2 separate regions of the Homo sapiens genome follow, and region 2 is linked to region 1. The links come from fine-mapping of genetic effects on plasma protein levels. A gene starts in region 1. The other region holds a variant in brackets. All regions are shown on one strand. Distances are from middle to middle.

Region 1 (14,629 bases):
GCGCGGCGTTACCAGGGCGCGAAGAACATGACGAAGTGCGCGGCGCTCTGGATCCCGTGCGTGAACATGTCGGCCGTGTACAGGTGCTTGCTGTGCGGGTCCTGTCCGTCCTCGCCGTCTGCCGCGGGGGGCCCGTCCGCCGCCGCCGCCGCCGCCTCCTGGGCCCGGGCGCCCCAGCGCCCGCCGCCGCCATGGCCCAGCAGCAGCAGCAGCAGCGCAGTCAGGGCCGCCGGCCGGGCCAGCAGCGGGAGGAGGCGTCCTGGGCGCGCGGGCATCGCGGCGGGGCTGGGCGCGCTCTCGCCGCGGCCTCCGGTCCCCTCGCAGCGCCCGCCCCGCGCCCCGCCCCGGAGAGGCCGCGCCCCTTCCTCTCCCCGCCCGCCCGCGCCGGCGCGCGACCGCTACCCGCCCGAGCCCCGGCTCCGCGCACCGGCAGGGAAGGGCTGGAGCGAGGGACCGAGTCTGGGAGAGCCTTCCGAGTCCGGCCTCCTGCCTTCCCGCCATGGGACGGCTCGCCCCAATCCCGCGAGGCTCCTGCGCCTCCGCAACCCAGGCCCGCACCCCTTTCCCCAGGGGCCCGCTCTGCTCAGAGCGGCGGTGAACACACGAAGTAACGATGAGGCCAGCGGGAAGCCACGGAGGGGCAGGTCAGCCTCGGCTAATCTCAGCTCACACAAGCACCCCGCGATTTCAGGCCAAAGGAAGGAGAGAGCTGCTGTCAGCAGAATATAGGAAATCGGGCAAAAGACGGTGGGGTTTGCACCTGAATTAGTTAGATTCTTGGCCAGAGCTCAACTGTGATTCTCGACCTGGGCTCAGAGGGGTGATGAAACCCGCTTCCCAAGTGAACCCCTTGCTGGTTACCCCTGCCCGGCCTCAACTCAGGGATGAAGAGGAAAGAAAGTCAAAGCGGCCTCTTCTAGACAAGAAGGCACCTAGCAGGACTGACTGGGGTCCTACTGTGCCCTCATTTATGCCGGTTACTAAAATGAATGACAGCACGCCTGCTATGGCTGAACTCAGCCTGTGGAATGGCCCGAAGGCATCCCTGCCCAGCGACTCATAACTCGCACCTGCACACACACCTTACAGCAGATGGTAATCGAAAGCTCCAGCCCTACCCCGGGGATCTGAAGCTAAATTAGAATCACCGGGTTGCTCTCCGGGATCCTGCCTGCTCTTTGATTATCCTCAATCCAGGAAGCCCCAGGTAGTTAACTCCTGGCTTGGCAACAGGGGACGCGCCCACTGTCTCACCTGTCATTATTCTGCTCCCGCCTTAGGCCCAGCCACTTATGAACCTTTAACCATGGGTTGCCAAACACCAAAACCATCAATCTCCCTCCAAAGTCTGTTCTTCCAGCCACTTAAGCTTGAAACATGGGAGGCATCTTGTATTGCTCGCTCTTTTCCCGTGTGTCTCAAAATTCAACCGCATTTCCTGTAACCATGATTTCCTTCCAGCATTCTCAGTGTTCATACCCTGAACGGAGACTAAGCCTGGCCTATTGCAGTAGCTTTCTAAGAGTCTCTTTCATTCACATGGCTGGAAAATTAATTTTCCTAAAGCCTGCCTTTGACCAAGACAGTTTGCTGCTTAAACTTGGACCAAAACGCCACCACTGTCCCCATGGCCTTGGCCGATGGGGTGAAATAGTCATGCCTGGGGCAGCCATTCAAGGCCTTCCGTGATGTGGTTGCATCATGCTTTGTGTCCCTGTGAAACTCACTCAACACTAGAAATCCAGGGATTCTCTCCAATAACTGTTATTGCCAAACTCTAATCCCTGTGTTCTCCAACACCTCAAACCTCCCAAACCCTTCCACGGTGCTGTTGGGAAATTCCCACAAGCATCGCCATACACTCTTACAGCATCAGTGTCTTTCGTTTTTAACTGAAACACAGTTCTAGGAGCTCTCTCAAGTGTTGGCTGCTCATTCTTTCACACCTGGAGTCCCTCAGAGCCAGGAAGTAAAGCTGATGCCTTCCTGGTTCCCCATTGCTCCTTCCAAATCCTACAAAACCTTCAGTACTCCTTAAATTGATGCCACTGGGCATGGCACCCTCTTCCCTGCCAGTTCCTGTCATTCTTCCACATCACTCTTCCTGGTTCAGTGAAGACTTTGGTTCCTGGCTCACAGTGTTCCTGGCCACCCCTTTCCTGTCTTTCATTCCTGGCATCTTCAGCATCCAGGTGGATGCTCCATCTACCTTTCCCTCAGTAACTCACACCCAAAAGGGAGACCCTAGCACTTGTCATCACCAGCATCTGCACCATCTCCAAAATCTGAAGGCATCCACTCTGCCCAGCACCTCCTCGACTGTTTGCTCAAGAAACCCATTTCTGCAATGCTTCTTTCTCATCATGACCTCTGAGCTACCCACCCCACCATCTTCTACAATCCCCTCGCAGCCCAACAGACTGCTATGTCTTCTCTTGCCTCTTGGCCAAGTTACAGCCCATGGAGTCTCACCCTTCACTTCCTGCCCTGCCACATTCTCCCCACAGATGCTGGTGAGCTTTGTCTCTCTGGGTTCCCTGTGCCTTCAACCAGGTAGCCAGACTCTGCTGGAGAAAAATCGCACAGTCAAGCCGCATGTCTCCTTCACACTGGTAAAAATAAGCCTTAAATTCCTCCTCACCCCTGCCCTAAAACTGACTACCTCTGCCTAGGCAGTGTGCTGCCCCACTCTCTGAGATGCTTCCATACTTCCACTGACACTGCTCCTCCTCTCCTCTCCCCACCCCACCCTGTCAGTCGCCATCCTCTCAGCTGCCAGCTTTATCTCATGTTTCTGAGAAAAATGAAGCCAAAAGCATGAGCTCCCTTATCCCTCCCCCGCCAAATCTACACACCCCTGCACAGGCGCCTTTCCCTCTGCCCACAAAGGAGCAAGTCAGTATATCCCTGCCTAGCAAAGCCCAGTCCTCCAGAATAATGCCCCTCACGGATAACCAGGTCCTAATTCCTGAAACATCTGATTGTTTCTTTATATGGCAGAAGGCTTTGCAGGTGTGATTAAATTAAGGGTCGTGAGCTGGAGAGATTACCCTGGATTATCTCGGTGGGTCCTAAATGTGATCACAAGTGTCCTCATAACAGAGGGGCAGTAGGAAATTTGACTACACAGCCGGAGGCGACGTAACAAAAGCAGAAAGAGATTTGAAGATGTTAAACTGCTGGTTTGGAAGATGAAGGGGCCAAGAGCCAGGAAAAGCAGCTCTAGATGCTGGAAAAAGCAAGGAAATAGACTCCCCCTCAGAGCCTCTGGAGGGACCTGCAGTCCTGTGGACAATTTATAGTCCAGTGCAACTGGTTTTGGACTTCTGACCTCCAAAACTGTAAGAGAATAAACGTACGTGGTTTTATGCCACCAAGAGTGTGGTGTTACAGCAGCCCTAGGAATCTCATATGCCCTCCCTGCTCCCTGCTCAAAGGCTTTGTTCTTCAGCTCCTCTCTTTCTCTCCTGCACAAGTTACTCATCACTCCTTCCTACTGGACCATTTTCATCAGTGTATAAGCAAAAAAAAAAAAAAAATTATCTGTATTTCACTTTCCATTCATCCTTCAGCTCATGCCACTCTGACTCTCAAACCTGCCACACACCAAGTCTTCTCAAAGTCACTGAAGATGTCCACATTGACAAGTCAAATGAACACTTTATGTTCCTCATCTTCCTGGGCTTCTCAGCAGCGTTGGTACAACTGCCATTGGCCCCATCTGCATCCACCGTCCTTTCTGCTTCTCTGATCTACCTCCTACCATCCCCACGTCACTCCTCAGTCTCTTCAACCCAACCTTTGATGTCAGTTTTCAGCGCTCAGCCTCCAACCCACTTTTGTTTCTCTGCATCACTCCCTAGGTGATCTCATCCATAGCCATGGCTTTAACACCATCTATATGCTGCTGCCAAAGTGTACATTTGCAGCCGAGGCCTCTCTCTGAGCTCTCACTATCTACAGGATGCCTCCTCTTGTTTGTCCTGCAGGTGTGCTGAAGCTGACCTTGTGCTTCCCTGCAGCAATCTGCTTGTCCTCCGATTTCCCCTCCTCAGTAAATAGTTCTTCCTCGCTGTTGCACAAACCAGAAACCTGAGTTGCAAACTTTGTCTCAGACTCCTGGCCTCAAGTGATCTGCCTGCCTCAGGCTCCCAGAGTGCTGGGATTACAGGTGTGAGCCACCACCCCCGACCTCTGAGTTGTAAACTTTGTTACCCTTTTTCTTTATTGCAGTGCCTTGATCCCCGCCTCCTACTCGATCTCCCCATCAGCAAGTCCAATCATTGCCATCTCTGAGCCACAGCTCCCACTGACTGATATCTCTCCACTGCTGCCATATCCTTCTCTTCCTGTCTGCTACAGTAGCCTCCTGAATGTTGTTTCCACTCTTAAGTCCTTCCCATCCATCCTTCATCCAGCAGCTAGAATTGAATCGTGTCACTCCTTTGCTTAACTTCCTTCAGGGGCTTCCCTTCACATACAGTCAAATTCCAGCTCTTTGCCTTGGCTTGCAAGGGCCTTCAGGAAAGATGCAATCTCAACCCATACCACTCTGCCCTCTGCTCGCCTAGATTCTAGCCATTAGGGATGATTCTAGATACCCTCCCAGCATTCCCCTTCTCAGGCCCTTGTGTGTGGTGCCCTGTGCTTGTTCCCTTCCTGTCTTCTGTGACTGGACTCCCTGCACCCTCAGGTCTCTTGCCCCCACGCCACCTCCTCAGTGCCTGGCGATTGCCTTTCCACATTGACAAGTCAAAGCCCCTCTCTGCAGCAGCCTCCCTCTGCCCACTGAGCTCTCACCAGTGCCATGCTGTTTAATTTCTGCATAACACTTTTTGTCATTTGATGCCATTTTGTTGCAGACTTAGCTGGTTAAGGTGGCCGTCTTCTCCATCAATAAGCTCCCCGAAGGCCAGGGGCTATTTGCCACATTCACTTCTCTCTCCCTAGCACCCAAATGCCTGGATACAGTTGAGGCTCAACAAGTGTTGGATGAAGGAACCCCTCTTTCTAACCACATCTCTTTCCCAGGCTCCACCAAAACAAACTGACTCACTGTGCCTGGCACCTTCTCTCACATGCGGCCTTTCCTGCATGACCCGGCCACCCCTCCACACAGGCTGCTCAGCGTCACTTCCTCTGAACTCCCAGCCCTCCCAAGGGACTGACATGTTGCTTCATATGGTAGCAGCCACACATGGTCCTGCTTAGATTCCCATCGCCAAGCAGCGTGGCTTCCAGCTCAGAAAGCCTAAAAGTGAAGATACAACTGAATTTGTGTACAGCGATGAAATAATACAATGTTCTCAGTAAAAAATTCCCTGACCTCCAGCTGGGGTTAGGCTTCCTGCACTAATATCTTGTCCTTTCTCCCCATATCCCTTCACAGAAGGGTAATTATTTGGTTGTGTGAATTTTGTTTAGCCTCGGACTTTCCCTCTAAACTGTAAGCCCCATGGCCTGAGAGGTGTTTACGTGATGTCTGGTACACAGCAGGCATTTAATACCTGATATGGTTTGGCTGTGTCCCCACCCAAATTTCATCTTGAATTGTAACTCCCACAATTCCCATGTGTTGTGGGAGGAACCCGGTGGGAGGTGATTGAATCATGGGGACAAGGTCTTTCCTGCACTGTTCTCATGATAGTGAATGAGTCTCATGAGATCTGATGGTTTTAAAAAGGGGAGACTTCCTTCATAAGCTCTCTTCTCTTGTCTGCTGCCATGTGAGACGTGCCTTTCACCTGCCATGATTGGGATGCCTCCCCGGCCACTTGGAATTATAAGTCCAGTAAACCTCTTTCTTTTGGAAATTGCCCAATCTCAGGTATGTCTTTATCAGCAGCGCAAAAACAGACTAATACGATACCTGTTTGTTGAATGAATGCATGAAGGAATGGATGAAAAGTCACATTTGTCTACCCTCAGAGGATGGCTTGCTTGAGAGAGACCCCCCTCAAAATCATGGCCTTTCCCAAGCAGAAAAGGCAATAGGTATGTTGGTCTGTATTGTTAGAAGTTAGTACTACTTCTAGCAAAATAGTATTGCTACACTGCCTTCTTTTTTTGAGACAGATTCTTACTCTGTCACCCAGGCTGGAGTGCAATGGCATGCTCTTGGCTCACTGCAACCTCTGCCTCCTGGGTTCAAGCAATTCTCCTGCCTTAGCCTCCTGAGTAGTTGGGACTACAGGCACCTGCCACCACACCCGGCTAATTTTTGTATTTTTAGTAGAGACGGGGTTTCACTATGTTGGCCAGGCTGGTCTCAATCTCCTAACCTCGTGATCCACTCACCTCGGCCTCCCAAAGTGCTGGGATTACAGGCGTGAGCCACCACGCCCGGTCTACGCTGCCTTCTTATTGCAAATCCACAGCCTTCAAGGAGCTGCACTCCCTTCCGACAGCAGCCCTGTAGGTGCATGGCAAAGCCTCTCGTTGGAAGCTGTCCTCATCCCAGGGAGCACATAAGAACTGACATGGGAGGAATGGCTACTGAATGGGAAAAATACAGCTTTTGTTTTCCACCTCCAGAGGATAACACAAGACCCAAATGTGTTGTAACATTGTCAAGACAACCCCAGGACATTCAGAAACTGAAATGCCACCATTTGAACCACTTTAACAGGTGCATCCTGAGTTATTATTGGGCGAACAGTACTGCTTTTAGGAGGTACTGAAAGCATTTACATCCTGTTGTTCTAATTTGGTCAGAACACCTTGGTAGGTGCCTCTAAAGAAGAAGAAAAACTGTGTTTTTCTTGATGAGCTCATGTGACCATTCAAATGTGATTGTTGAGAGGTGGAGAAAAAGCTAGAGGATTGCTCTCATCAGAGAAAATCTAAAGAAAAAGACCAAAGTGAATTCCCAGGCTGGAGTCACACAGGGAGTAGAGCTGTTTTCAGTGTATTGAAATGGTTAATGGAAAGGTCATATTTACTCACTACTCTCACAAGCTCCTTGGGCAACACAGCCTACTAAACAATTAATAAGCACCAAAAACCCACATTACATTATAACATAACAGATTCGGGTATTTGGCAGATAAAAGCTTTCAAAATCCATGTGGGATCTGTGAGGTCTCGGGGGTAGGGGGGAGGAGAATAAAGAGAGTTTCTTTGTTGACTGGATCATGACCACTAAGCTGAATGATCTGTGCTGTTTCTCAAAGTGCACAGAACACTCACTCCAGCTCCCAGGAGCTCATTCAGTCTGTGCAAGTGCTGGCTCTTCTCGTTCATGCCCCTGTCATTCTCCCAGCTCTTTGTCTGCTAGATGCTATTACAGGAGTTCTTATTTTTCCCAGAGTCCCCAGGTGCGGGGCCGATAGGCTGATCCAGAAGCTGATGCTCACCAGCACCTGGACTTCATAACAGGAGAGAAGACTTCTCCCTGATGCAGGTTGCTCACTGAGTTGTTCCACTCCTCTCTCAGCTGCGCTGGCCTGCAGTGATGGCCTTGGCCTTGGATCTGTGGCATTCCACACGGGCATGGGGACATGCCTCTCACAGCACTTAGGGGCCAGCTCTTCATAGCTGCCTGAATTTCAGAACACTATTCCAAGTTCAGAATCCAGGAAAATGTTTATCCTACCTGGGGGTTCTCAATTCTGGCTGCACATTGCAATCATCTAGGTCTTGAAAGCAATACTGATGGCTTTGTCCTACTTCCTAGGGTTGAGAATTCCTGGGATTAGAGGAGACACAGCCAGGATCTCAGTCCCTGGTGCGCCTGTGGCGGACTGTAGCAGGGCTCTGAGAGCACAGATGTGGAGCAGACCACCAAAGGAACGCTGATGTTTGCTGGAAGTTAATAGGTGTTTTCTTAAGAGAAGAGCTCTGACTGAGACATGTTTGAGGAACACTTGGTTAGGGTTAGGGTTAGGAGATAGAGAAGCCAGGAACAATGCCCAAATTAGACCACAATACTGCTCAAATTAGATCACAATACTGCTCAAATTAGATCACAATACTGCCACCACTGCTACCACCTCGACATGCAGATTCCTCCTATCCCACCTCTGGTACAGGACACTATATGTGACCATGGGAACCTCTGCAACCGCTGCCCTGCAGGATGGACTTTGCATGACCCCTGCTTCTTCGCAAAACTAGCTTCCAATGGAAGCCTCACTGCAGTAGGGCTCAATGGTCTATGCTCTATCCTAACTTGTGGCGGTTAGGTCAGAGGCTCCACAAATGCAGGAAAGGTGTCCAGTGAAGCTGGGCAGCCTGAAAGAATGTCAACTGTTGATACATTGAGTCCTTTTTTTTTTTTTTTTTTGGAGACAGAATTTCACTCTATTTCTCAGGCTGGAGTGCAGTGGTGCAACCTTGACTCACTGCAACTTCTGTCTCCTGGATGCAAGCGATTCTCATGCCTCAGCCATTGAAATAGCTGGGATTACAGGCGCCCACCACCACACCAAGCTAATTTTTGTATTTTTAGTAGAGACAGGATTTCACCATGTTGGCCAGGCTGGCCTCAAACTCTTGGCCTCAGGTGATCTGCACACCTCAGCCTCCCAAAGTGCTGAGATTACAGGCATGAGCCACCACACCTGGCCAACACACTGTGCCTTGAAGACTACTTAAGAATTGGCTGGATGAAGTGCTAATGGAAGAAGAAAGAAAAAGATAGAAACCTATTTCCTAAATGATTTATCAGAGATTTTTATTTGCGATTGCACCATCTGAATTCCTAAAAGTATCCTATGCAGTATTTCCCAACTTATTTGATTGTGGACTCCTTTTTATTTGTGGTGTCTCTTGTGTTGTTAATCCTCTGCAGAACACTCTGTGAAGTATTATATATAGAAGCTTGGGTCGTATTTCACATGGAAGGATCAATGTCTGGTTTCCTTTGCTTATTATAGCTGCAACATCTCCTCTTCCATTGTGTGCATTTAATTGCAAGAGAATTCACTCAACAAATATTTATTGGATCTAGTCTGTGTCAGGCACGTTTTTAGGTGCTGAGGATCAGCAACAACTGAAATAGACAAAAACCCTAGTCCTAATGAACTTCCATTGTAGGTGGGGAAACAGCCAATACGTAAGATATAGAAGATAAACACTATGTTAGCCAGTGGTAGAAGCCCAGAAGAAAACAAGGCAAGGAAGGGGGTATGAAGTGTCAAGGTTCAGATGGGATGTCAGGGTTTGGATAGGCTTATTGGGGACATGGCTTTCAAGTAAAGACGTGAGGGAGTAACACATGTGAATATCTGGTTCCAGCCGAGGGATCAGCAACTGCAAAGGACTTAGAGCGAATGAATAAGAAGGCAGTACAGAATGAGAACACTGGCTTTTACGAATGAGAAGGGAAGTCATCGGAGGGTTTTCAGAAGAAACACGACAGGATCTGGCTTCCAATTATTTCTACAGCATGGCTCTGAGAGCTGTAGCGAGGAATGCGAAGGGGGCAAGGATAGAAGGGAGGCGACCACTCCGGGAGCAATTACAACCATCCCAGCACAAGATACTGGTGACTCACGCTAAGGCGGAGGTGGGAGGGTGATGAGAAGCAGGTTCCGGGTCTCTTTTGATGTATGTGCCAACAGGATTTGCTGACTCAGCAGATGTGGGCTGAGGGTGGTGAGAGAAAGAGAGGAGCTAAGGATGACACTGAGGCGTTCAGCCAGAGTGGCTAGGAGCACTGAGTTGTTATAATCTGAGATGGGAAACAGGTTTTGGGAAAGAGTTGCTCAATGTTGAACATACTACAATGGGGAAGTCTGCAGATACACAGAGTGGGCAGATGGCTATTCAAGTCCAGGGCAGAGATGCAGGCCAGATATAAATTTGAGAGTCGTTAGCATTTGATGGTATTTAAAGCCCTGGGACAGGAGGAGATCCCTGTGGGAGTGAGTGCAGAGGAGGGAAGAGGTTTAAGGGCTGAGTCCTGGGGCATCTCACTGTTTTGAAGACCAGGAGATTAGGAGGAATGGGCAAAAGAGACTGGCATGGAGTAGTCAGGAAGGCAGGAAGAAAACCTGATTACTGCTGTCCACAGGCCCAGAGTAGAAATGTTTCAAAAGACGGAAGGAAAAGCTGTTTTGAATCTGCTGATATATCATGGTTTGCCCCCAGACAATCCCAGTTTACACCTACTGACATGATCTAGTCATTACTCACAGCCATTCCCCCTCCCACGTGTCTCAGTTTGGAAGGTACATTGACAGGGCATCCTGCTGACAGTTCAGGTGTAATGATCCCTAAGCACTCACCTTTAGATTTGGAGACTTTGGTAATAGTAGTTTTGGTGAACAGGTGGTAGTAAAAACCCAACTGGAGTGGCTTCAAGAGGGAGAAGAAAGGAATTACAAACAATGAATGTGAACAACTCTTCAGGAGAACTTGTCACATAAAGCAAAGGAAAAGAATACAATAGTAACTAAAGGAGAGAGAGGGGCCCAGAGGGTTTTGTTGTTGTTGTTTTTAACATGAAAGACAAGTCAACATGGTTGATTGTTTGATGATCCAGAAATAAAGAAAACATTGGTTGCCACAGGAGACAGAGGGAGAATTTCTGGAGTAGTGGCCTGAGGGAGTGCAGGAGGATGTTGCCTATGAGTAGGGGCAGACGTTGGCTTTCCAAGGAGCCCCAGTGGTTGTCTGTGATAAGAGGAGGGCAGGCACAGTGGGTGGGCACAGATCCAGAGAGGTGGGTCCAGGTGGCTAATGGTGGGAGCTGGCACCTGTCCCCTCCAGTGGCTTCTGTTTTCCACTGTAATAGAAAGCAGTATCATGGGCTGACACTGAAGATAGGGGAAGTGCTGGAGGTTTGGGGAGGGCAGTGAAGGTCTGAAATAGAGGTCACAGTGAGAACGGGAGAGGGAAAACAAGGCAGTTTGGTATTAATGCCTGGTGGCCTTGAGGCTCCACTTGATGTCAATTTGACATACCCGGATTTTCTCCAGGTACGTTCTGCTGTGTGGTTCAGTCACACAGTAGACAGTTGGATTTAGTCAGGCCTATGATTTAGCTAAGTGAGGAAACAAAGGCAGAGGGCGGCAACAGAGCGAGAGTGTATGTAGGGGAGAAATGATAACACTTGACTATGGAATTTAAGCAGGGGAAATTATAAAACATTTATCTTAAGAAGTTGTAATACTCAGCCTTGTATACACACAGTACACAAGTTCGTTATCTCTTTGACATGTTGATAACTTCCAGTGGGTCACGTGTCAGTTCATTTATTGAGAAGTCCTATTCCACGCCTTCCTCTCTATGTCTAATATGGCCATGTGGCTCAGGCCTTCACCTCCTCCTTCACGGATTATCTCCACAGAGTCTTGGCCATGACTCCTGATTCCATGTGCTCCCATCCAAACAATGTGCAATTGTTTTGGCCAGGATCATCTTGAGACAACAGCTTTATCATCTCACTGCTCTGTCCCAAAATAAAGAATAGCTCTGTATTTCCAATTATATCATATCACAAGTCCTCTGCCCGGCTTCTGTAGCTCCCTCTACTTTTGCAAACTTGTCTCTGACATTGCATAACTCTGCTCCAGACAGGCTTGCTTTCCTATTGTCCCTGCCACATGTTGTATCATTTCCAACTCTCTTCCTTTGCTCATGCTGTGCTTTCTGCTTGAAATGCTCTCCTCTCTGCTTTCAAAATCCTATCCATTATACATGGCAGACAGCAATAGTGGTTGGTACAGGAGGAGAGGTAGGATTGGAGTGGGCCAGGAGTAAAGACACACAGAGACATATATATATATATATATATATATATATATATATATATATATATATATATGTATCTATCTATATATATGTATATATACATATACATACACACACACACACACACACACACACACACATATATATATATACACATTGACCCTTGAACGATGTGGGAGTTAGGGGCATTGACCCCCACACACTCGAAAGTCCATGTATAACTTTTGACTCCCCAAAATGTAACTACTAATAGCCTAATATTGATCAGAAGCCTTACAGTTAACATAAACAGTCAAATAACACACATTTTGTAGGTTACATGTGTTATATACTGTATTCTTCCAATAAAGTAAGCCAGAGAAAAGAAAATATTAAGAAAATCATACAGAAGGAAAACACATTTGCACCACTGTGCTGTATTTATCAATACCGTAAGTTTATGTCATCTGTTTACAAGATGCCTCATCTGTCTGAAATGGCAGCAACCACAGCTGCAGACCTCAGTGCATATCAAACAATTCAACTTTTTTCTTGTAATGTCATGACTTTTCTCTGCTTCCTGGGAACCCTTCCAGCATCCCTAGTGGTGCTTTGTATGGGTCCCCTGGTATTATTCCAGGTTTTGGTATTGCAACAAACACAATGAAAAATACATGAGAACCATAAGATCACTTTTTGCTGTGATATGCAATTTCCTGAAGAGAGGAACTGCTTGAAGGGAGATGATGAGCATCACACAGCATTTGAAGCTGATACTCACAACACTTGAGCTCACTGCAATAGCTACAGGAGGTGGCTGCAAAATTATTATAGTAGTACAGTACATGCTACAGTTAATTTAATGCAGTTATGATTTAATACTGCATCTTTCTGTTTGTTTATATGTCTCTTGACTGAGAATGGTGCCATGTATGGTCTGTAAGTGTTTACATGCATGAGTTTTGATATATTTTAACTTTTTATAATAGCTTTGTGTATATTTTATGGTAGTAAATGATAAAATAGAATCTACATATATTTTATATATTCGTGACATACCTAGTTTTTTCTTAATTGTTAAGCATTTCTAGGTTATGTGCATATAACTAACATTTACATTTGAATTTTTGCAATAAGCTTGTCTTCATACCACTTCTGTAATTTTGTCATTGAAGAGTTTAAATGTAATTTTTAAAGGACTCTTCCTAGTTGCTATTTGGCAGTAGGTATTTTAAATTTATATAAGTATACCTTTTGACCCAGCAATAGGTCCAGGACCTTATCCTTGGGAGATAACTTCACAATTTCATTGCAGCATTGTTTATAATAGCAAACCATGGGAAGCAAACTGCTACCCCTCAGGAAAGCACTGAGTAAATTAAAAATGACATAGGTAGACCATGTGCAACATGCACAGTGGTGTATTTTAGTGGTTCATGGTGCAGCCTCTGCCATCAGACTACTGAGAGGCTTGAATGTCAGCACTACTCCTTCTGGCTGTATAACTTCAGGTGATTAAAATGTTCTGTGCTTAAATTTCTTCATCGGTTAGAGACTTTAGGGATTTTTTTTTTTTTGTAAAGAAGAGATAAACTATTTGAAACCATGTCTGGTTCCATGTAGAGTGTAGAAAGCAGGAAAAATTATTCCCCTACCCTAATAACAGAAAAATAAACTACAAACAAAACAAAACAAAAAGACCGGATATACTACAACACGATAACTTTTCATGAACTCATCAAAGAGCTGAGGGCATGGGGCAACCAAATATCCTTAAATCCAAGAAAAGTCAGGCTTCTCCAAGGAAAGATGGAGCACCCTCACTGATTTCTCTGTAGCAGAGACCAGGAGGAAGAGATGCTGGGACTGTACAAGTGGGTAAGAAGAATTTGGCTAAACTTTACGATTAAGAGCAAAAGCCAAGTGTGGGCTGGCACAAGAGTATAGCACCCCTGAGAACTCCACACACAAAGGGAGTTTGCACTCACATTCAGGACCTTCTACTGGGCCTCCACTGGATGCTCATGAGAAAGTCTGGAAGCAGAGCAATGAGACCAAGGGAACCTCCTTTGGTGGTGTGGACCTGAAGAATGGGAGTGGTTGTTGTTGTAGGAAATTCACAAAATCCTGACTGAACTCTCTTCTCCTATAAATATAGTTTAGGTTTCCAGGGCACTGGCAAAGTTGGGGGAGCTTGGAAAAAGGTAAAAAGAAAAGAAGTAACATCCTCTACCCCTGGAGAAGGGGAAGGAAAGAGTTCTGGGTCAAGGATCATATATATGACAATATGAATAGGGGTCTCCAACATGTGGGGGAGGGGCGAGGAACTGTCCTATTCAAGACCCAGCACAGATATGAGGCAGTTTGGCAGTCACTGGGAAGAAGAGCAGGATCACTGAGAAAGTCCCATTCCTAAGACCTAGGCAGACAGACTTGCCTAAGACTGAAGCTGGATCTGGACAAGAGAGAATCTCCCTTCCCTGTCTCCACCACCAAGCAAGCACCAAGTAACGAGCAACAGCAGTCTACTTCTGGGGAGAAGGCAAGAGCATGGAGATAGGCCTCCCAGTCTTTGTCACAGACAAACTGGTAAGACTGAAAATTGAGGGTGAAGCAGGAGCTCTGAGAAAAATATCCTGGAACCCCAGCCTCCACCCTAAGCACAAAGTAATGCTAGAAAAATTAAAGTCAGTGATGTACTGAAGGTCACCATAGCAACAACAAAATTCAAACCCACCTCAATTACTAAGTAGGTTTACTCAGGAGGATGTAATATCTCATAATATAGCATTGCCAACACTAATAGGCTAGCACAGGAGGCATGCCCATTTGCAGAAATAAATACTATTTACCATAGTGTTGGTTTTTCTATACCTGATGCCCAACATTCAATCAAAAATTAGAAGACATACATGGAAAACAAGATAAAAACAACCAAAGTCAAGAGACAATG
Region 2 (14,601 bases), 41 kb before region 1:
GGGATCAGCCAGAGGCGTGTGTGCTGGGAGCTGCAGCATGTACCCCTGATGGCCCCCAGGAAGGGAGCTATGGCCCCTCCACCACCACCCTCAGAACAGGACTCTCAGATGTGAAAGCTCAGTTGTGTCTCAAGGACAAGAAGACTCCATCACTGTGTCCTCCCTCCCATCCGCTGGACTCCAGAAAAATGCACCTCCATATGGCTCCTTTCAAGTTAGCCCCCAACCCCTCCCAGGTGTACTGGCCCCCAGGTAACATGGAGGAATGACAGATAATGAAAGACACACCTGGGGCTTGGGAGAGGGATTTCAGAGCCATGGCTGGACCTGATGCTTTATTCCGAGGTGAATTCTGGATTGGAACACCCCGGTCTCTTATGGTAGAAAATGGCAGGCACTTCCACATGGTCCCGCCATCGGGAATGGATGGGACACTTCTACCTGTTTCTCTACCACTGATTGCATCGTGCAGAAGGCCTAAATGAGATGCAAGCCTCCCTTTGGCAAAGTATTGGAAAAATGAAGGCAACGTATTGGAAACATAAAGGCTTCATAAAGACACGCTTTGGGCACCACAGCTGGGACCTCTCTGCCCAACTCTGTTCTCCTTCTGAGGGGGATGGTGCCTGTCTCTGCCACCTTCTTTTCCACTACAGATCATGGAGAGTCTTGCTGAAGAACCTTCCTTAGGGGAAACAGGCATGTCTGTCTTGGATCTTTTTTTTAAAAAACAACAACAACAACAAAAAAAAACGGGTCTCACTCTGTTGCCAGACTGGAGTGCAGTGGCACAATCTCAGCTCACTGCAACCTCTGCCTCCCGGGTTCAAGCAATTCTCCTGCCTCGGCCTCCCGAGTAGCTGGGACTACAGGCATGTGCCATCATGCCCCTCTAATTTTTTGTATTTTTAGTAGAGACAGGGTTTCACCATGTTGGTCAGGCTGGTCTCAAACTCCTGACCTCAAACAATCCACCTGCCTCAGCCTCCCAAAGTGCTGGGATTACAGGCGTGAGCCACCGCGCCCGGCCTGTCTTGGATCTTTAGAGTTCATCTCCATCCCCGAAGGGAGTTGTAGAAGCTTCCTGTATCATGGGCCCCACTTGCCTGTCCCACACTGTGAGAGGAAACCCATTTACATCTCATGTCCAAAGCCATTTTTTTCCTACAAATAGTTTTGTGTGTGTGTGTGTGTATTGAGGGGTTATAAAGGAAAGCAGAATATTTTATCATGGTTTTTGCTTCAGTGGCTTTAGGACAAATTAGAACTCAACTCTGGTGCTAGAAAAGAAAAATCTCCACTTAAAACCCATGTTCAAATATCTGTAATGTTCATTTGGAGAAGAGAGGAAGGATTTGGGCTTTTTAATACTAATTGTACCTGAAGGTTTCCCTGCGGAAGCAGTTTATTAAATGGGACTGAAAGCCGCGCTGCTAAAGGCAATTAACATCTGATACATTCTCAAAGCTCAGAAATCTTTGGTGAGAGGAATGTTTCTGCCTGTGTAAGAGCAGGCCAGGGAGTTACCTTCTGCTTATGGAAGGAATTCGTCCTGGGGGGGCTTTTATGATTGTTGGATTTTGTCATCTGTGTCACCTGATCACTCAACAGTTTTTTGCCCAAACCCACCTATGGCTGGGCCCTGCTTGTCCAAGTTGCCCTGGATGAGCACCTGGGGCCTTGTCTTGAGGGGGAAAATTGCCTCTGGGCGGCTGGTGCCCCTGCCCTTGAGGGGGACCAGATTTCACTGTGTATTCAACTTTGAAAAAGCCAGAGCCCTTGAAAATGTCTCTCAGGACCAATATTGGGCCTTGACTGCAGCTGTGTCTGGGGATGCTGGGGAGCCTTGGGGTCCCAAGACAGACTTTGTGTCTCAGCAGGGCAGTAGCGCTACCTGTGTGTGAGCCTCTTGTCTAGAGGGCAGCAGTTCCAATTCTGGTGTCACAGGCGCATGTGGACAGCCAGGGGCCTGATCTCAGTGGCTCTGACTCATGGGTCTGGGATTGAGCTGAGAACCCCGCACTTTAGAGAAACTCCCTGATGATCCCCAGTATTCGGCACAGGCCACCTACAAGTCACACACTGAGAGCTTCTGTCCTGGCGGCGGGGGTGGTGGGGGAGGCTCCTCTGTCTTGGGTCAGCTTCTCTGGTTTTTGGTTTGTCGCCTCTCTCTAGCTGTCTCACTTCCTTTCTCTGCCCTGCCCTTGACTGGTGAATCCACTGGGGCAAAGCTGTGTTACCTCTCTTTGTCCCACTGGAGTGACCATGTTCCTGTTGAATTGTCACCACATACATTTCCACTGGCCCTCTTCAGCCCATTCATCAAAACCAATACCAGGGGCAGTGGGAGTGAGGGGAAAGTTTTTTCTGTAATCTGTAATCTGTCAATCTGTTTAAAAAAAAAAAAAAAAGTGTGTCAGTATAATTCCATGCAGAACCCAGGGTACTGACCCTGAGTGGCAGACACAAGTATTCCAAGGAGCATCAACCTTCATAAATATTTATACGTTCTTTGCCAGCACTTAACATGGAATTATAAGGAAATTTAAGCATGGCCTGAGAGTATCTGTAGGAAGAAAAACAGGAGAGTTGAATTCCTCCTTTTCCTCTCTCTGGCCCTGATCCTTACTTAATGACAAAAATGCCAGTGTCTGGCGCTAAAAGAAATAGCTGTTCTTCCAGAGAAGGTTCTCTTTGTTGAGCATTGAGAGAGTCAAATCAACAGCAGGTTCACAGAAACCCAGAACTGCTGGTGAAGTTAGAAGCAAAGCCCTTTGACTATGTCATCTTGGTTCCATCCAGCAGAAAAAGAAACTGGAAATCCAGACATGAAGTGGTGGTCTCTGCCTGTGTTCTGCCAGCAATTCTTCAACACCAATTAAGTGTCTTGCAATTCAATCCAATTCTTTTTTTTTCTTTTTTTTTTTTTTTTGAGACAGGGTCTTGCTTTCTCGCCCAGGCTGGAGTATGGTGGCATAATCAGGGCTCATTGCAGCTTCAATCTCCAGGGATCAAGCAGTCCTCCCACCTTAGCCTCCCAAATAGCCGAGACCACAGGCACACACCACTATGTCCAGCTAATTTTATATCTTGTAGAGACAGGGTCTGTGTTGCCCAGGCTGATCTCAAACTCATGGGTTCAAACAGTCTTCCCACCTTAGCCTCCAATAGTGCTGGGATTACAGGCATGAGGCGCCACATCTGGCCTCAGTTCAATTCTGATGCCACCTGGAGTTAGCACAGGCCCAAGTGAAAGGGCAAGGTCCCCAAGGAGACTGCTGTCATTTCAGACACCAGGCACAAGTGAGGTCCACAGGGCAGCCATGCTTCTGTCTGTCTTGCCTACAAATTTGGGAGTTCACATTACCGCCCTTCATGTTTGATAATTTGCTGGAACAATTCACAGAACTCAAGAAAGTGCTATACTTACAATCATAGGTTTATTATAAGAGGTATGACTCAGGACCAGCCAAATGAAGAGACTCTTAGGCAAGGTCAAGGGGATAGGCATGGGTGGTTGGAGCTTCCACACCCTTTTGGGTGCACCGTCCTCTTGAAACATCAGTATGTTCACCAACCTGGAAGCTCCACTGAGCCTCAGTGTCTGGAGTTTTTATGTGGGGTTTAATTGCTCTGCACAATTGAATCATTGGTCACATGATTGAACTCCATCTCCAGCCCCCCAGAGGCCAGGCTAAGCCAAAGTTCCAACCCCCTAATCCTGTGCTTGGCTTTTTTGGTAACTAGCCCCCATCCTGAAGCTAATGAGGTCCTAGAGAGTGTGTGGGGTTCACCGTGTACAATCTAGGGCCTCAGGAGCATAACAAAGACACTCAGGAAAATCCAAGGGTTGTCAAAGCTTGGTGCCAGGAACTGGGGACAAAGACCAGAGATATATTTATTATTTTCACACTGCCCATGTCTGCTTGACCTGGGAAAGAAAGTTGTTTGTAGAAATCTTTGCTTTTTACATGACCAAATGATGCCAAGATGGTCTTCATGGAGATTTTGGTCCCTAGCACGAGACGGTATTTTGGAGGAAGCTTACTTCACAAGCAGAATGAGGTTGGATGGGGAAAATCCCAGGCTAAGACTGTAAGTTGTGTGATCATGCAGTTTATCATCTAATCTAACCCAGGACACCTTTAGGAGCGCAGGGCGTTAGGACCTTGGGGTCTTCAGGAGACTCCCCTGCTGCACCCAGCTGGCAGGAGAGGAAAGAGTGAGTGGAAGGCTGATGGGGTAGGGGGCAGGTGGTTAGGAGGGCCAGGCCTGGCAGCACCACACATCCCTTCTTCCCCACATTCATGGGCAGAATCCAGGCACATGGCCACAGCTAACTGCAGTGGGAAATGTCATCTGGCTGTGTGCTCAGGAGGTTGATAGAGGATGTGGGTTGCTAATAAACACATCACAGCCGCCACATGGTTGTTCCTGGAATAGGTGAAGCAGGCTGCTTCCTCAGGGCCTTCACATTGTCATTCCCACTCTAGGAAATTCTCTCACCCCAGATGGCCTCATGCCTCACTCCCAAGGCTCCTCTTTTGCTTAGAAGATACCTTAACAGAAAGACAAGGCCAGGCGAGGTGGCTCACGCCTGTAATCCCAGCACCTTGGGAGGCTAAAGCAGGAAGATCACTTGAGCCCAGGAGTTCAGGACCAGCCTAGGCAACACAGAGAAACACCATCTATACAAAGTATTTAAAGAATTGGCCAGGTGTGTGATGTACACCCAGCTACTCGGAAGGCTGAGGTGGGAGCATCACTTGAGCCCAGGAGTTGGAGGCTGCAGTGAGCCATGATCACACCACTGCACTCCAGCCTGGGCAATGGAGTGAGACCCTGTCTCAAAAATTTCTTAAAAACCCACAAAAACAAAAAAATCCAGACAAGCTTGTCAACGCTATGTGAGATAGCACACTTGCCACCCTGTACTCTCTATGCCCTAACTATTGAATAATAATTTAGCTAGTCCGGGTTTTTACTAGTCAGAATTTTCCAGAGAGACAGAATCAATAGGATATATGGAGATATATATATATATAGGAGGAGATTTATTATGGGAATTGACTCAGGCAATTACGGAGGCCAAGAAGTCACATGAGCTGCTGTCTGCAAGCTGGAGAACCAGGAAAGCTGGTGGTGTAATTCAGTCTTGAGTCCAAAGGCTTGAGAACCAGGTGAGCCAGTGGTGTAAGTCCTAGTTGGAAGTCAAAGCCCTGAGTACTGGGGAGGGCTGCTGGTATAAGTCCTGAAGTGCAAAGCCCTGGGAACTGGGAGCTCTGATGTCCCAGGGCAAGAGAAGACAATGACCCAGCTCGATAAAAGAGAATTTGCCCTTCCTCTGTCTTTTTGTTCTCTCTGGGCCCTGAACCGAGGAGATGATACCTATCCGTGTTGGTGAGGGCAGGTCTATTTTACTCAGTCTACTGACTCAAATACTTATTTCTTCCAGAAATACCTTCACAGATACACCCCAAAATAATGTCTTAACAGTTGCCAGACTCAGTAGCTTACACCTATAATCTCAGCACTTTGGGAGGCCAAGGCAGGAGGCTTGCTTGAGGCTAGGAGTTCAAGACCAGCCTCGGCAACATAGCAAGTCCCCATCTCTGCATTAAAAGTTAGCTTGTGGTGGCCCGTTCTTGTAGTCCCAGCTGCTTGGGAGGCTGAGTGGGAGGATTGCTTGAGCCCAGGAGGTCAAGTCTGCAGTGAGCCATGATTGTGCCACTGTGCTCCAGCTTGCGTGACAGAGCAAAACCCCATTGCAGAAAAAAAAGTTTTATCAGCTACTTGGGCATTCCATAGTCCAATCAAGTTGACACAAAATTAACTATCACAGTGCTCTAGATTGCATGCAGTAGAAGCAGACTGTAATGAGAGAGAAAAGCGTACCAGGGAACTTACCCAATCAACAAAAAGGCTGGAGACTTAATTCAGGAAATCAAGGCTCAGATCTAGTCATGGAACAATGTGCTTTGGATCCCTCCAATGTGGTCATCACCCTAGACACTGGCTGCCGTACTACCCATTCTTGATGTCACCTTTGAGTCACTCCCTCAGGTTATACACTGCAGGGTGGAGACATTTGATTGGCTTTGATGAAGTCATGAGTCCGTACTTCAGATGCTAGGGGACAAAGAGGGGAGCTATCTGTCGTGGGAAATGGGGCTCTGAGTCCCACCTATCTAGGCATTCCCCCACATGCGAAGTGTTGCCAAAAGCTGGGTAGCAAAAGCAGTAAATATCCACTACAGCTGGGTATGGCATTCTAGGTTTGATGGCATCATTTTCATATTATTTAATTTTTTAATGTGTATTTTTGTTAAGTTTGCTATCCATTTTGTGTTTCTTAGTAATTTTCTTTTTATCTCTGGATTACTTTTAAGAATTTATGTGTTTGATATAATTTCACTACATGTGGCTAGATAAGAATTTATCTGATCCTCTTGGAACTCTTTGGGCCTTTTCAACTTAAAGATGTTTGCCTTTCTTTAGTTGTAGAAAATTCCCAGTCATTATGTCTTCAAATACTACTACTCCCTATTACTGCCTTCCGAAATTCCTATTAGAAATTTGTTGGACTTTTCATTCTCTCTTCCATGTCTCTTTACAAAGAGACAGTCATGTATTTTGGCCATTTGATTCTGTGCTATATTTGAAGAGATTTCAAATATACTGTTGAATTCTTTAATTCTGTCTTCAGTTATGTGTAATTTGATGATTATCTGTTTAATGTATAACTAATCTGTTAAGTAATCTGTTTAATCTGTTAATTAGACAACTAATGTTTAACCTGTTTAATCTGATCTTTAGTTATATCTAATCTGATTTCATTGTTATTTTCAATGGTTATGGTTTTTATAAAGTTCTATTTGACTCTTTTTACATCTACCTGTTCTTTTTTCATGTTTTTTCCCCATAATTTTGTTTTAAGGTTTCTAGTCCTTCTTTTCTTCCTTCCATTATTTTAGGTATTCTTCCTTTTTTTTCCTCTAGTTTTTGTTTTTAGTTTTGTTATTGTTTTGTTTTGTTTTGGTATTCTTCCTTTAGAGCTTAGTTCAGATGACTCTTATCCACAGTCTCTGGGGTCCTCTGGGTCTTCCCTTGCATTCCAGCCATCCTCTTGAGAGACTTTGTGTGGCTGATTCATTTTTGTTCAGGGGTTCTTTTCAGTAGGAAGTTTCTGTCTTATGGTGATAGTTGGTTGATTGTTTTTACTGAGAGAGTCCTTGTCCTGCATTGTGAAAATTTCCCTCCAGGGCTTCTCTGGGGTCCTTAAAGTTAAAGGCAGGGTGGTTCTGTTGGGTAACATAGGCAGGTGGAGAGGATAAATAAATTTAGAATTATAAACCACCTAAAAAAGTTGCCCCATCTCTTCTCCCAGTATAGGCCACTGGCCTGAGTCACTGTCTCTTTTCCTTAAAAAATCATGAAATCTGGTGGGGCATGGTGGCTCACACCTGTAATCTCAGCACTCTGGGAGGCTGAGATGGGCAGATCACTTAAGGTCAGTAGTTCGAGACCAGCCTGGCCAATGTGTTGAAACCCCATCTCTACTAAAAATACAAAAAATTAGCTGGGCATGGTGGCTCGCGCCTGTAGTCCCAGCTACTCGGGAGACTGAGGCAGGAGAATCGCTTGAACCCAGGAGGCAGAGGTTGCAGTGAGCCGAGCTCGTGCCATTGCACTTCAGTCTGGGTAACAGAGCAAGACTCTGTCTCAAAAGAAAAAAAAAAAAATTAATGAAATCTGCACGCTCTCTCCTGCTTCAGAGCCAGGAAGACTGGGAGTTAGAAGTTAGAAAATCAAGTTCAAACAGGCTTTCAACAATTAGGTGACTTACTGGCTTATGTAGTTGAAAAGGGAAGGGATAGCCTGCAAATGACCTAGGCTCTTACACCCACTGACATCCCACATTAGATGACCTTTCTCTAAAGCCTTCTCCTTGCCTTTTCTCTCTCCGTCGTTTCTCGAACTCTCCAACACAACTCCAGATGGATTAATCCTTTCGAATCACAGCGGGAAATGCTGCTCTGCAGCTCAGAACCCTGCAAAGGCTCACTTTGTGCCTCTGGTGGGAAGTCCGAAGCATTGTGGTTGGCAGCCTAGGCCATTCATTTCTCCAGCTTTATCTCATCCGACCCTGCTTGACACATCCTTAAATCCATTCCAGCAGAACTCCTCTCTCTTCCTCTCACTCCCACTCTGAACTGTCCCTTCTCTGAAGGGACATTTGCCTATGGCCCTTGCCTGTGTGATATTTGCCTATGGCCTTTGCCCGTAGCATCCATGTTCTGGTTTGTATTGGAGTTATTTGTGTGTCTGTTTTACACCACCCCTTCATTCACTGAGTTCTTGGAGGGAGGAAAGCCATGTCTGACTTACCGTCTATTGGCCGTGGTGCCAGGCAGAAGGCATGTCACGTAAGAGTCGCTCCAGTGGGCCTCAGTGAATTGGGGCACCCCCAGTGCTCTTGCTGGTGATTCAGTTAAGCCAGGCTAGTGGCCCCTGTGCTGCACAGGGTGGGTACATGCACTTCAGCAGAGTCTCCTGAGGAACCCCTGGCTTAGTGTTATTGCATCAGCACACAAGAGCTCAACCCTGGCAGTGAGGTGGGAGTACAGCCAGAGAGAGCATTGCCCCTGCGTGGTGTCTCCCTCTCCCCCGTTCCTGGGCCTCCTGGTTTGGCCCCACTCCACCATTACTCTTCCTTCAGGATACTCTTCTGGCCCGGCAGCTGTCTTGAAAGCCCCTGTGCAGTTTCAAAATGCTCCCTGTTTGGACTGCAGCAAATCCTGCCTAGTAGCGTTGTCTGATCATGTGAATGTGATGCCTTCCCGGTCTGGCGCCTCTGGGGTGTACTGGGCAAGTCGGCCCACGCCTCCATAGGCCTTGCATGCAGCAGGGCTCACAACACACCTCTGTTGCTTAAGGGTGTCCATTCAAGTCACCCTGCTCCCAGTACTGACCCCAGGGTAGACAAAACGGATTCCGTAAGACATTCAAGCCAACAGTCAGGAACCTGATGTAGCTGTTGGGTGACCATACTTGTATCTAGGAGGCTATCCTGAGCCTAGCACAGAGCCTGGCATGTGGTAAACTCTCTATGAAGGAATTAATGAGTTGATGGGTGCATCTTTTGATGGGTGCATCTTTTGATCTCCTCCAACAGATTACAACAGCAGTGAATTGAAAACAGCCTGCAGGAAGCATGAGCTGTATGTGAGTTTCCAAGACCTGGGATGGCAGGTGAGTTCTCTGGACACGGGGGATAAAGGTCCTTTCTCAGCAGTTTACTCTCATCTGAATGGTGGCAGCCATTACCAAACACCCAGAGCTTGATTGAAGGCTGAGCTGCTTCCTTCTGTGGAAGTCCTGAGGAGCCCTCCCAAATGCTCAGGCTCCTGGAGTAAGGCAGAGGAAGCTTAGTCTGTGGGGCACCAGGCGCTCCAACACCTTCCTAGGGTGCCTGAGCTCTGTGATCCCTCAAAAATCAATAGCCACATTTCCCAATATTCTCACCTCATCCTTTCAAAGCCCATAGGACATACATTTATTTGGGCATTTAAACAAATTTTAATTGAGACAGGGTTGGAAAAAAATTACCTAATGGTTAACATCTCCAATGGCTGCAAACCAGCTCACCAAACGATGCAGAAGAGCACACGTTTGCCTCGTACCTGAGAACCATCACTAGTTTGTAAGAAAGGCAGCAACTTTAATCACAGGTGGTGAGCGATAAAAGGTAGCTTCCATATGCAGGTGGCACTACTTCCGCAGGAGCACCGTGGGCTCCTGGAGAGGCTTGCTTGGGTCCAAGCACATATTGCTGGCAACCTACGTGCTTCCAGGTAGCAGCTGAGGCCCTGTGGGCCTCTGCAAGGAGCGAGGGTTCTGGGGTCAGATGGACCAGGTTCACTTCCCAGCATTGCCACTTGAATGTGAACTTGGACAAATTCCTAAGCCTTCCTGCGTCTGTATCCTTGCCTGTGCAATGTGAAAAATACCTTTTCACAGCATTCCTGAAAAGCACAAATAGTGTGAGAAGTGCATGCTCATCTTTTGTTGCTTCCTTTGCATGAAATTAAGGACTGGATCATTGCACCCAAGGGCTATGCTGCCAATTACTGTGATGGAGAATGCTCCTTCCCACTCAACGCACACATGAATGCAACCAACCACGCGATTGTGCAGACCTTGGTGAGCTCTCGGAGACTTTGTTTTGTAAGTGGGAGTAAGCCAAGACCAGGTGTCATTTCTAAGGTACCTTCTCCCCTTCTGTTTTGGAACAGGTTCACCTTATGAACCCCGAGTATGTCCCCAAACCGTGCTGTGCGCCAACTAAGCTAAATGCCATCTCGGTTCTTTACTTTGATGACAACTCCAATGTCATTCTGAAAAAATACAGGAATATGGTTGTAAGAGCTTGTGGATGCCACTAACTCGAAACCAGATGCTGGGGACACACATTCTGCCTTGGATTCCTAGATTACATCTGCCTTAAAAAAACACGGAAGCACAGTTGGAGGTGGGACGATGAGACTTTGAAACTATCTCATGCCAGTGCCTTATTACCCAGGAAGATTTTAAAGGACCTCATTAATAATTTGCTCACTTGGTAAATGACGTGAGTAGTTGTTGGTCTGTAGCAAGCTGAGTTTGGATGTCTGTAGCATAAGGTCTGGTAACTGCAGAAACATAACCGTGAAGCTCTTCCTACCCTCCTCCCCCAAAAACCCACCAAAATTAGTTTTAGCTGTAGATCAAGCTATTTGGGGTGTTTGTTAGTAAATAGGGAAAATAATCTCAAAGGAGTTAAATGTATTCTTGGCTAAAGGATCAGCTGGTTCAGTACTGTCTATCAAAGGTAGATTTTACAGAGAACAGAAATCGGGGAAGTGGGGGGAACGCCTCTGTTCAGTTCATTCCCAGAAGTCCACAGGACGCACAGCCCAGGCCACAGCCAGGGCTCCACGGGGCGCCCTTGTCTCAGTCATTGCTGTTGTATGTTCGTGCTGGAGTTTTGTTGGTGTGAAAATACACTTATTTCAGCCAAAACATACCATTTCTACACCTCAATCCTCCATTTGCTGTACTCTTTGCTAGTACCAAAAGTAGACTGATTACACTGAGGTGAGGCTACAAGGGGTGTGTAACCGTGTAACACGTGAAGGCAATGCTCACCTCTTCTTTACCAGAACGGTTCTTTGACCAGCACATTAACTTCTGGACTGCCGGCTCTAGTACCTTTTCAGTAAAGTGGTTCTCTGCCTTTTTACTATACAGCATACCACGCCACAGGGTTAGAACCAACGAAGAAAATAAAATGAGGGTGCCCAGCTTATAAGAATGGTGTTAGGGGGATGAGCATGCTGTTTATGAACGGAAATCATGATTTCCCTTGTAGAAAGTGAGGCTCAGATTAAATTTTAGAATATTTTCTAAATGTCTTTTTCACAATCATGTACTGGGAAGGCAATTTCATACTAAACTGATTAAATAATACATTTATAATCTACAACTGTTTGCACTTACAGCTTTTTTTGTAAATATAAACTATAATTTATTGTCTATTTTATATCTGTTTTGCTGTAACATTGAAGGAAAGACCAGACTTTTAAAAAAAAAGAGTTTATTTAGAAAGTATCATAGTGTAAACAAACAAATTGTACCACTTTGATTTTCTTGGAATACAAGACTCGTGATGCAAAGCTGAAGTTGTGTGTACAAGACTCTTGACAGTTGTGCTTCTCTAGGAGGTTGGGTTTTTTTAAAAAAAGAATTATCTGTGAACCATACGTGATTAATAAAGATTTCCTTTAAGGCAGAGGCTGGTCGAGATGCTGCTGTTATCTTCTGCCTCAGACAGACAGTATAAGTGGTCTTGTTTCTAAGATTCCTACCACCAGTTACTTTGGGCCAAGTATCCACATCCCCTTGCGTATGGGAGGTGGGTGAAGAGTGTTGGATGCAAAGTGGTTATTATGGGAAGTAGCTCGATGGTAAAAGGACAAACACCTATCTATCTTAGAGCTTAAGCCTGTATGTGCTTATTCCCAAGGGAGATAGAGGTGTTTAATCACAAGGACAGCATGAGTTAGAGGACACTGGCATCAACAGCTGCCACAGCCGTGCACACCAGGGCCAGAGCAGCCCACTGACATCTGTCTTTGGTCTTGAGATCAAATGCATCCCATTCTTCATACATTAGAAGGTCGACCTCCTTGAAGCAGACCAAGTATAGCAAGCCTCTAAAAGGACTACTGAGAAACAGAATCAGAAACTCTAGAACTCTAGTTAGGGCCCTTCAGCAGGGCTGCAGAGCCTCCCTGGATACCCAGGCCTGGGAAAGCCTGTCTGGTCTTGTCACCCCAGGTGACAAATACAACTGGAATCTTTCAATGAGTTAATGAGATACTGAGAATGAGCCTCGTGGAATTTTCCATGCCTACCCTTTCTAAGGAAGACATCCAACAGTTCATGTGGGCTCTGGCTTCGTGTTAACATGAGGAACTAAAGACATGTTTCACCCCGTGAGAAACAGAAGGATCCCCTGAACAGTAACTGATTTGACAAGTATCGACACATAAAGTTATGGCATCAGCATTCTCTTACTCAGGCACGGTCAGAAGTAACGCTGCTTTCATCACGGCTAACCTCTCACACTGAGAGAAGTATTCACAGCAACAGAAGCTCCAGCAGCGGCCGTGAAGGTATCTTCCAGAGGTGTGGGTTTTTGCATTTCAATCTGCTCCATGCTACGGACCAACACAGTATTGAGTCAACTGTGACCTTAAGATCAGAGGAACGTCAATACTGCCACAAGGCCACCTTTCCAGAACTCGTGGGCAGGTAAACTATGCTTTGGATGTGCTTTCTTTCACCAAAATCACTCAACTCAGGAGCCACAAATAGTCCAGCAATTTCATTTCCCTCAACGCTATTTTAGTCTCAAAGGAAACCATGTAAATTTCATCAAGAGAAGGTCAAAGGGGATATATCGCCACTGAAAATGTTTACACAGTGACCATGAGTTACACATTTACTTAGAGAAACTTAACTTAATAAAGAATCTGTAGAGTGTGTTGGCTTGGAAAACACACACACAAAGAAGATACCTCACGCTTAGTATGTTCTGCTTTCTGAACAGCCACCACTGGGAACCCAGTGGCCTCTGTGGGACTGAACTCCTAAACGCAGGGTGCGGGAGCTGGGCAGGAGAGGTGACCTCCAACTGTGTTCCTAAAGTTCGTCTTTCGCTTGGCTCAGGACAAAGCGGTGTAACGAGTCAAGGTCTCTGCCTCCACTGTGCTCACTGACTTTCTTCCCTCCT[C/T]GGAAAAGCAATAACGTGGGGTAGCCTCGTACCTTAAAACAAAAAAGAAAAAAGTTTGCAAACCAGCGGTCCAGATCACATGCAAATTGCTTCCTAAATAAAACCAGATACACTCCTACCGTTGTGGCTGGAAAAATTCTGTGGCTAATTTTTAAAGGTGTATATTCCATTAAAACAGGAGCAGACTACTGTTTAGAAAGCACAGCCGTGGGGCTGTGTGTTCACTTCTGAATTCAAAATGACATCATTAAAGATCAGCCTCAAAGGAACGACTTTACCCTAAAGCAGACGCTTTCAGTCTTTACTGTGCACACGATCACCTGCGGATCTGCTGAAGGTGCAGATTTGGATTGAGCAGGCCTGGGAGTCTGCATTTCCAATGACCTCCCTGGCGATGCCCTGGTGGTCTGCAGACCAGACCATGAGAGCAAGATCCTCTTGAGGATACATGTTTCAGTGGCAACTCGTTTCTAAGAATTTTAGGGCACAAAAAACAACTGGTATCTTTTAATGATAAGGAAACTATGTCTGGGTTACGTCTATTCTCCATCTAAAGGGCTCCAAAAGTGTCTGAATAACAAAGAAGAAAAAAAATGACAAATCTTCCAGGCCATCAGACTGTGCTAACAGCTTGGAATGAAGGCAGTAGTTAACCCAAGCACAGGACCGACTTGCTGGCATGGCCCTTTCAGAAAGGAGGTTATGTTGAAATGATTCTTAGATTCAGCCACTGCATTTTATAATGCTGGCTTATGTGTGAAAAATGAGCGACTCGGGTATTTATGGCAAAGGCTACAGACCACTGGTCAATCATCAAGAGTCGCGGTGTGGGAAGCCCCACAGTCTATGGCGTGGGGTCTGTTACTTCACGGCCTTGTTACTCAGACAGCAAGGCCTGAAAACCTGCACTGAAACATGGATACTAACTACAAAGCGGGCGAAGAAGAATGCCTTCCCTTTGAGAGAGGATCTCTTTTGCTTCTCCAAACAAACAACTCAAAGGGACATAAAAACCACATTGTTGAGAAGATGAGAGCAGAGTGAGTTATCGTGGTTGAGGCACAGTTCCCTTGGGATCTGCCCCCATACTGAGAGCTCCCATAAGCATCCATCCAAGTACCCACCGAATACTTGCTGCAGATATTCCGTTCAGCAGTGCAGTCTACTTCGGCGATCTTGACCCCCGCCAGACCAGGGAATTCCTTTTTAGAGAGTTCCTCCCAAGTAGGAGCCAGAGTCTTACAATGACCACACCTAAGACGAGA

Which allele goes with the higher level. Alleles are on the strand shown, and positions count from the first base shown. The strength of an association depends on the size of the effect and on how common the allele is.
As copies of T replace C in region 2, the plasma level of the protein whose gene starts at base 287 in region 1 goes up (weak association).

Evidence for each region. A credible set is the group of variants that fine-mapping cannot tell apart. PIP is the posterior inclusion probability: the model's chance that the variant is causal. Protein levels are from antibody-based Olink assays in UK Biobank. Linkage for the fine-mapping came from a reference panel and not from the study's own genotypes, which makes the PIPs less certain.
Region 2: its variant is the best candidate, but not a certain one, in a credible set for the plasma level of the TXNDC5 protein (UK Biobank, PIP 0.55). The variant lies in the coding sequence of TXNDC5. If it changes the protein, the assay may bind it differently, which can mimic a change of level.

What each region holds. Positions count from the first base shown.
Region 1 is chr6:7,910,502-7,925,130 of GRCh38, forward strand. TXNDC5 (thioredoxin domain containing 5) reads right to left here and starts at 287. Exons shown (of 10, transcript NM_030810.5): 1 at 13-287. The coding sequence starts at 275. All of the region lies in intron 4 of BLOC1S5-TXNDC5 (BLOC1S5-TXNDC5 readthrough (NMD candidate)), which reads right to left. RefSeq lists a silencer at 142-571 and enhancers at 2,412-2,561, 9,059-10,258.
Region 2 is chr6:7,869,899-7,884,499 of GRCh38, forward strand. BMP6 (bone morphogenetic protein 6) reads left to right here. Exons shown (of 7, transcript NM_001718.6): 5 at 9,176-9,252; 6 at 10,093-10,203; 7 at 10,296-11,830. The coding sequence ends at 10,445. TXNDC5 (thioredoxin domain containing 5) reads right to left here. Exons shown (of 10, transcript NM_030810.5): 9 at 14,461-14,590; 10 at 11,619-13,368. The coding sequence ends at 13,246. It overlaps BLOC1S5-TXNDC5 (BLOC1S5-TXNDC5 readthrough (NMD candidate)), which reads right to left. Exons shown (of 13, transcript NR_037616.1): 12 at 14,461-14,590; 13 at 11,352-13,368. Among named protein-coding and RNA genes, the nearest start is that of TXNDC5, 34 kb to the right of the region's middle. RefSeq lists an enhancer at 12,168-13,367. The variant C/T (reference allele first, on the strand shown) is at 13,337.